Homo sapiens: one gene and its partner. The protein of the gene in region 2 purifies or fractionates together with the protein of the main gene of each other region. This does not show direct contact. Each region holds a gene or a part of one and is shown on either strand. Other genes may lie near its edges. The genes, in order: SCN10A and ITGA7.

Evidence for each region.
Region 1: the proteins of ITGA7 (region 2) and SCN10A fractionate together in Homo sapiens (co-fractionation; one large-scale study listed by BioGRID). This does not show direct contact.

What each region holds. Positions count from the first base shown.
Region 1 is NC_000003.12:38,722,069-38,725,885, forward strand, and holds part of SCN10A (sodium channel protein type 10 subunit alpha), read right to left. Parts: intron 3,247-3,817; coding exon 3,106-3,246; intron 1,486-3,105; coding exon 1,362-1,485; intron 345-1,361; coding exon 190-344; intron 1-189.
Region 2 is NC_000012.12:55,690,634-55,694,450, forward strand, and holds part of ITGA7 (integrin alpha-7 isoform 2 precursor), read right to left. Parts: coding exon 3,810-3,817; intron 3,698-3,809; coding exon 3,623-3,697; intron 3,491-3,622; coding exon 3,388-3,490; intron 2,685-3,387; coding exon 2,508-2,684; intron 2,343-2,507; coding exon 2,211-2,342; intron 1-2,210. UniProt on the Homo sapiens protein: Integrin alpha-7/beta-1 is the primary laminin receptor on skeletal myoblasts and adult myofibers.

The DNA of each region.
Region 1 (3,817 bases), on a different chromosome or scaffold from region 2:
CTTGAACACCTCCCATGCTCTGCTGCTAAGAGGGGCCCTCGCCCTGGGCTGCAGCTCTCCTTCTAGTGACAAGGTTGGGGACTTTCAGCTCAGTAGTCAGGAGAACCCACTGATGCAGCTCCAGGGCCTTTGGATTGTAGGAGATTCCTATCTGGAGGATTTGGGGGCAGGGACTATGCCTCCCCTTACCAGAGATCCACTGCTGAGCAGGATCATGAAGATGATGAAGCTCTCAAACCAGCTGTGCTCCACGATACGGTAGCAAGTCTTGCGCACCTGCCAGCCCACATCCCATGGACTCTTGGTGGTATCCAGTTTGCAGCAGGGACAGTGGCGAATGCATCCTGTGGGGAGAGGTGACTGATGGTGGGTGATGGCCAGTGGGCAAAGGGGATAATTTCTGCTCCTGCTGCAGAGAAACCATTCTGCTAGGAAACCCACTTGTCATGCCCTTGGAAAAAAATTCTTTCCTGGAATATGGGTGAAGAGGGGTCCCTTCCAGGGAGTCCCTCAATCCAGACCAACAGGTGTTCCTCTCCATCATCAGTCTTGCCCACTCTGATGTTTTTCCTAGCCATATCCTTCTTACAGATGACACCAGTGGTCCCTGTCCTTCTGCCCACCTATACCTGGAAAACAGACAAGCTACGGCGTATGAGCCTGGGGGTGCCTGAGGGGGATATGCTCCAAGCCCAAGCTGAACTGAGGGCCACGACGTGGCTGGGATGGGGATTGGGTCCAGCCCAGCTCAGCCCAGCCCAGGGTCAAATAAAACTATTAATAAAAACTCAAGTATTTAAAAAATTTTTCTTTGTATTTTTAGAAAGCATTGAGGCCACAATTCCCTTTATAGAATGGACTCTTGATTCATTCATTGCACAAATATTTATTGAGAATGTAATGTGCCTCACTGTTCTAAACACTGAGAGGAAAGATGACTAAGACACAGGTTCTGCTTTTGAGAGCTAAACAAAAGATTGAGGGAAGCAGATACATCATGGCCTTCCTCTGGGTCCTTCATGGTCCAAATCAAGAGTTTTCAGTGGTGTTTATGGTGGTGACTACGTTTCCCCCTTTCAACTCAAGAGGGCTGGTTTAGAACTCACGGAGGGGTTTTTGAGGGTAAAGAGGAAGGCCCACGTCTCTCCGTAGTGTCTGATAGGGCATGAGATGCAGATACCACGGCCAGGCTGCTGCCACCTGGGGCATGTGTGTCTGATGCGGGCGCCCTCAAGCCTGGGAGTGAGGCAGCAAGTGGGCACAGCTTGTTTGTCTTCTGTGGATCCCAGGTGAGTGTTCGCTCAACTGGATTCTGGCCCTAATTAACATCAGTGTGAGGGGGCCTGTGGCTGTCCCTTCACCTTCTGTGAAGCAGTCATCTGGTTCTTCCAGGTCATCTGCCAGCTCAGGGATCTTCCTCAGGATTTCCTCAGGATCTAGGCAGTCCACCGTGCTGCCCTCAGAGGAGCTTGTGTCGTCCACTCCCTGCAGGGGAGAAGCCCAGGGCAGTGAACTCGTCTCTCCGCGGGGCCCGGGGAATTGCACACGGTCACTGCAGGTTCAACTGCACCCATGTTTGGTGCCTCGCCAGCTGAGGCCTGGAACACTGCTCTTCTCCCTGGAGCCCCAGAGGCTTAGCTGTGTGAGACTGTAAACCTTCGGGGCCCCTGATGGAGTGCTGGCAATGGCCCGAGACACCGTAATTACACCCATAACGACTCTCAGCATTCACTGGGCTTGAATATTTAATCATGGAGTAATGCTGCAGGGGCCTGCTGCCCTCCTGGCAGCTCCAGCCCTATAATGTCTCCAGATGAATTCAATTAGGGGTTGAAGTTGCTCTCATATTAGTAAACCTGATAGCTTTGCTAATGGACCCAAATGGTGGGGCGGGTCCCCATTTGTCGCTGTCAGGCCCCTCCTGCCTAGCCGGGGTCATGGACAAGAAAACAAAAACAAAAAACCAACACCCAGAAGTTGTGTACTGAAAACATTGAGTAGGGACAACTAGCCAGGGGAGTCCTTGGAACATTTGGGAAGAAGCATGACATCCACGTGCAGAATGTGACAGCCCTCACCCAGTGGGAACCAAGCGGCTTCTGTTCACCCACAGCCCCCAAATCCCGTCCCAGCCCTCCCTCTTATCTTACCCTGCTGTGGTCAGCCTTGCCTAGGGCACACAGCCAGTAGCTGACATTCTTCAAGCTGAAGGGCTTGATAACTTTGGGGATGAATTATGACTTCCTTATCTCTGTTGAGCCCAGTGCCTGTCACAAAGTCAGCACTCAGTGGCTAGGTGTCAAATTAAATTCTTGAATTGAAGGCAGTGTTATTAAAGATGCTAAACTTTTATAGATGCCTCTTTCCCTATAGCTTGTTTCCTTCAAGATTTGTAAGTGAAACCACATTTATTTTTACCTTGTATAAGACAATCCTAAACCTCTAATCTTCCAGCTCAGTCTCTGTGAGGCTGTCACTTCACTACTCACCTATAGAGAGCCTCTCCCTAGCCCCAGGCTACTTTTGCCTAGAGAAAATGATGTGGACAAAAGAAAGTGGGGGAGAATCACAAGGGAAAACTTCTTCATCTGTGAGCACCTCCAACTCTTATTTGCTGGCTCTGAAAGATATTTGACTTTCTTTGTGCGTTGTCTTTCGTTTCCTTTTTTCTTGGCTGTCATTTCCTGGGCACTTACTTTGTCTCAGGCAGGACCTAAACATTTGACAAGCAGCATCTCATTTAAGCTTCAAAATAATCCTACCAAGTAGGCATTACCATTCAGTTTCATAGATGAATAAATGGCGGCTCAGAGAGGTTTGGGAACTGATCTTAGGTCCCACAGCTTGTGGAGTCTCACTCTTTCTTTCTATACCTAGAACCACCCTGGAGTGAGATTGTGGCAATGGTATATGGTGAAAGTTGAAATTGTGCGGATTAGCCGGAGGTTGGGAGGGACTTTAAAAATTCCCAGGATAAGAAATGAGGTTATGTGATTGAGTGCAGTCTGGAATACCCCACCTTCACCGCCACCCTCCAGCCTCTACCAGCCCACTGCTCAGTGTCTGGCTGGCTGTCCAACCTCTCCAGGAAGCTGACATACCTACCTCAGCAGGGACCTGAGGAACAGACTCATCTTTCCACGTCTCACCCAGGGATGGAGCCAGGTCCTCAGAAGATGTTCCAGTGCCTGGGCTCCTGGGTGTCAGGTGGTCCCCACACCTCTCGACTTGCTGCAGCTGCTCCTGCTAGTGAGAGAGGGTCCCAACTGGGTGCCTGGCCCCACCCTTAGATGACCAGTTCTAAATTTGAAGGGATCTTGCACATCACAGGCTGCCAGAGCCAAGAGTTTCATATATGCAACTCATGTACATACATATATACATACACGTGTGTGAAGTGAGCATGAAGACTATAGCTAGATAGACCTATGTTTTATCCTTGGGCTCCATTAATTATAAGATGTGTGACCTTAGGCAAGTTGTTTAACCTCTCTAATCTTCATTTTTCCCAGCTTCAAAATTGAAAAGGCTAGATCTGCATCATTCAGCTGTTTTGATGACTAAATATGTTAGCGCTTGTAAAACACTTTGCACGAAGTGCTTGGCTCAATAGATTTTAGCCATGACCATTGTTATTTGTCCAGAGGTCAAAATTGTAGGGAACTTGGCCACCTGGAGCTCCCTAAGAGCCCCAAAGTAACTGAAAATGCTTCTGAGTGGCAGACAGCTGTCACAGAGTTCATGCTCTCTGCTGTTACCTAGACAAAGGCATGTAAAATATGGCAGCTGATAACAGCAGCTGCTGGAACACAAGTGA
Region 2 (3,817 bases):
AGGACTATAAATCATGCTGCTATAAAGACACATGCACACGTATGTTTATTGCGGCACTATTCACAATAGCAAAGACTTGGAACCAACCCAAATGTCCAACAATGATAGACTGGATTAAGAAAATGTGGCACATATACACCATGGAATACTATGCAGCCATAAAAAATGATGAGTTCATGTCCTTTGTAGGGACATGGATGAAATTGGAAATCATTCTCACTAAACTATCACAAGAACAAAAAACCAAACACCGCATATTCTCACTCATAGGTGGGAATTGAACAATGAGAACACATGGACACAGGAAGGGGAACATCACACTCTGGGGACTGTTGTGGGGTGGGGGCAGTGGGGAGGGATAGCTTTAGGAGATATACCTAATGCTAAATGACGAGTTAATGGGTGCAGCACACCAGCATGGCACATGTATACATATGTAACTAACCTGCACATTGTGCACATGTACCCTAAAACTTAAAGTATAATAATAATAAAATTAAAAAATAAAAAATAAAAAAATAAAATAAAATAAAAAAGAATCTACTTTAGACATTATGTTAAGCAAAGTAAGCCAGATTCAGAAAGATAAATACTGCATTATCTCACTTATATGTGGAATCTGAAAGTTGAACTCATAGAAGTAGAGAGTAGAATAGTTGTTACCTAGGGCTGGAGTGGAGGCGGGGTGTGGCTGGGGAGATGGAGGAGATGGTGGTCAAAAGATACAAAGTTTCAGTTAGACAGAAGGAAGAGATATCTATTTAAGAGATCTAATGCACAACATGGGGACTGTAGTTAATAACAACATATTGTATTCCTGAGAATCACTAAGAGAATAGATTTTAAGTGTTCTTACCACAAAAATAAGTATGTGAGGTGATGCATATGTTAATTAGCTCAATATAGCCATTCCACAGTATATACATATTTCAAAACATTGTATTATACATGATAAATATAATTTTTGTCATTTAAATAAATAAATACATTTTAACATGAAAACAAAAAGAATCTATTTCAAAGTTCCCATTTAAAAGGGAGGCCTCTCAGAGGAAATCGGTCACGTGGAGAAGGGAGGATTATCCATGTAATAGAGCAACAGCCACGACATGGGTTCCTACATCCCCTGACGTTCTTCAGTTTGCCTCATGCCATGCTCCCAGGGGAGCTGAGGGCCCAAAGCAGGGACTGCAGCAGCTGCTGACATTCCCCTGCAAAGGGTCTCCTTGGCTCTACCTGGGGTTTACCTCCACCTCCTTACAATCAAGCCAAAGACCTCCTAATCTAAGTCCCCACCACATTCTCACTGCGAGCCCCATCCTAGCAGGGAGGGGCACAGAGCATGTGCGGATCTGCTCAATACCTTCACCTAAACAACACAACTCTGCAAAACAAGCAGAAAAGGGGAAAGCAAAACTGCTCAAAAGGGGTAAACTTAATAAATCACATATAATATACGGTTGTCTTAATTATTAGAACTTTTAGAATTTAGTGTTTTTGCTGAGCGCGTGGCTCAGGCCTATAATCCCAGCACTTTGGGAGGCCGAGGCAGACAGATCGCTCGAGGTTAGGAGTTCGAGACCAGCCAGCCTGGCCAACATGGTGAAACCCCGTCTCTACTAAAAATACAAAAATCAGCCGGGTGTGGTGGCATGCACCTGTAGTCCCAGCTACTTAGGAGGCTGAGGAAGGAGAATCGCTTGAACCAGAGGCAGAGGTTGCAGTGAGCTGAGATCGTGCCACTGCACTCTAGCCTTGGTGACAGAGCAAGACTCCGTCTCAACAACAACAAAAAAGAACTTAACATTTTTAATACTGTAAAAATCAAGCAAGTGTCCTTACACAAATTGACTTTTTTATCTTATAAGAGTTCAAAAGAACGACAAACAGACCTCAAAGTGTGAGGATGGGCTAACCCCATCCCATCACGTATAAAATGTAATGCTTTATATAAACGTAATGTGAATCAATTGCTTGGCTAACTAACTGGCTTCAGGTGGAGTGACCTGTTCTAGAGTGAGCAATTGCAGGGGCTGAGCAGGAAGGGGGTCTGCAGTGTCAGTAGCTGCCTCCCGGGCACCCCCTCCTATGAATTGTGATGGGAACATCTGGTCAACTTGCACCCAGACCATCATGTGTCTCAACAGGTACCCTTCCTGGACACGCAGCACCCCGGAGCTCTGGCTGCACCGAGTCTGGCCTGCCCTCACCAGGGTGATGTTTTTCTTCTTCTCAGCAGAGGACACTGGCCACCAGGACATGCTGGGCTCCTGCCGCTCACCAGGCTCCTGCTGCTCAGGTGGCTCCAGCTCCCGCCGCCTCCTATCCCTACTGTCCACATCCTGGACACGGAAGGGGGGTCTTAGTGAGTGTCCCTCCAATCACAGCAGTGCTAAGATCGAATCTCCTCCCCACCGCCTTCCTCCTGCCCCATCACTGCACTCACTACCCTTACTCCCCATAACATCTGTCCCCACATCTAACCCCCACCCCCACCTAAGCCTCACCAGGTGGAGGATGTTGGGCCTGGGAGAGCAAAGCCCTTTCTGCCCAGGCCCCTGCCCGCCCTCCAGCTCAACCTGCATTGGGTACAGCAACCACTTCCCATTGGCAATCTCATGAGGCCACATGATGTTGAGGAAGGCAGAGCCCAGGGTTCTGAGCGACTGGCCTTGGTTGGAAACCTGTGGGAAAAAGAGAGTATGAGGGGAGAGACCTCAGTTTTTCTTTTTTTTTTTTTTTTAATTTTTTGTAGAGACAGGATCTATGTTGCCCAGGCTTGTCTCTAACTCCTGGGCTCAAGTGATCCTGCCACCTTGGCCTCCTGTAGTGCTGTGATTACAGGCATGAGCCACCGTGCCCAGCCAAGGAACTCAGCTTTCAAGTGGATCCTAAATCCACAGAGATGGAAGGAACAAGGGCTGAAGAGAAGGCCCTCAGGAAACACAATTTCAACAAATACTCAGGATCCTAGACCCCACCAGGCACCATTCTCTCCACCCACCAAATCCGGGAAACCCTGGAAGTGTCCCTGGAAGGTGTGAGGAGAGGCCCCAGCCAAGCAAAGGCAGAGTTCTAGGGAGAGACATTAACCCCCCGCCCCATGTTCCCATCCCCCAGCTGAGGCCCACAGCAGAGAAGCTTCCCTGGACTCTCATGGCCTACCACACCAGCAGGTGAGACAGCCAGACAGAATGACCAGGAAATGGTCAAATGAGGCCCCAGCAGGAACACCTTCCCACAGCCAAGGTCCATATGCAGGACAGAGGCCTCAAACTGCATGCTGCCACATGGTAGAAGAGCCCCAGCCCTGGGGACACAGCTCAGCCTCTCCTCTGTGCCAAGGAGGGAGGGTGACCATGGAGGGGCCTCATCCCTGACACTTACCGTGACCTCATACTTGACCTTGCTGCCCACATCCCGCTCAGACTGCATGGCTCTCTCGCCCCTCACCACACCAGAGAAGAAGAGTTGCTGGGGAATGGCCATTCTGGCGTGGAGAGGTCAGAACAGGGGTGAGAAGGTCTGGGGCCTGGCTCAATGAAGGCAGGGCCCTGGCCAAGGTTTGGAAATGTCAATGCCCCCTCCCTCCAATGGAGGTGCCCCCTTGGGCCAGGCTCACCCTGCAATGGACAGTGGCAGCTCAATGAAGACACGGGCTCGTGCAGAGACTGGATGCAGCTCCTGCTCACTGATCCTGGTGAGTGGGCAGGGGCAAGTATGGGCATCAGGCACAGGCACCTCCCAAGGGGTCAGATGAGGTCAATATGACTACCCCCACCTCACCCTTCCGGCCCCGCCTGGCTTACGTGGCCAA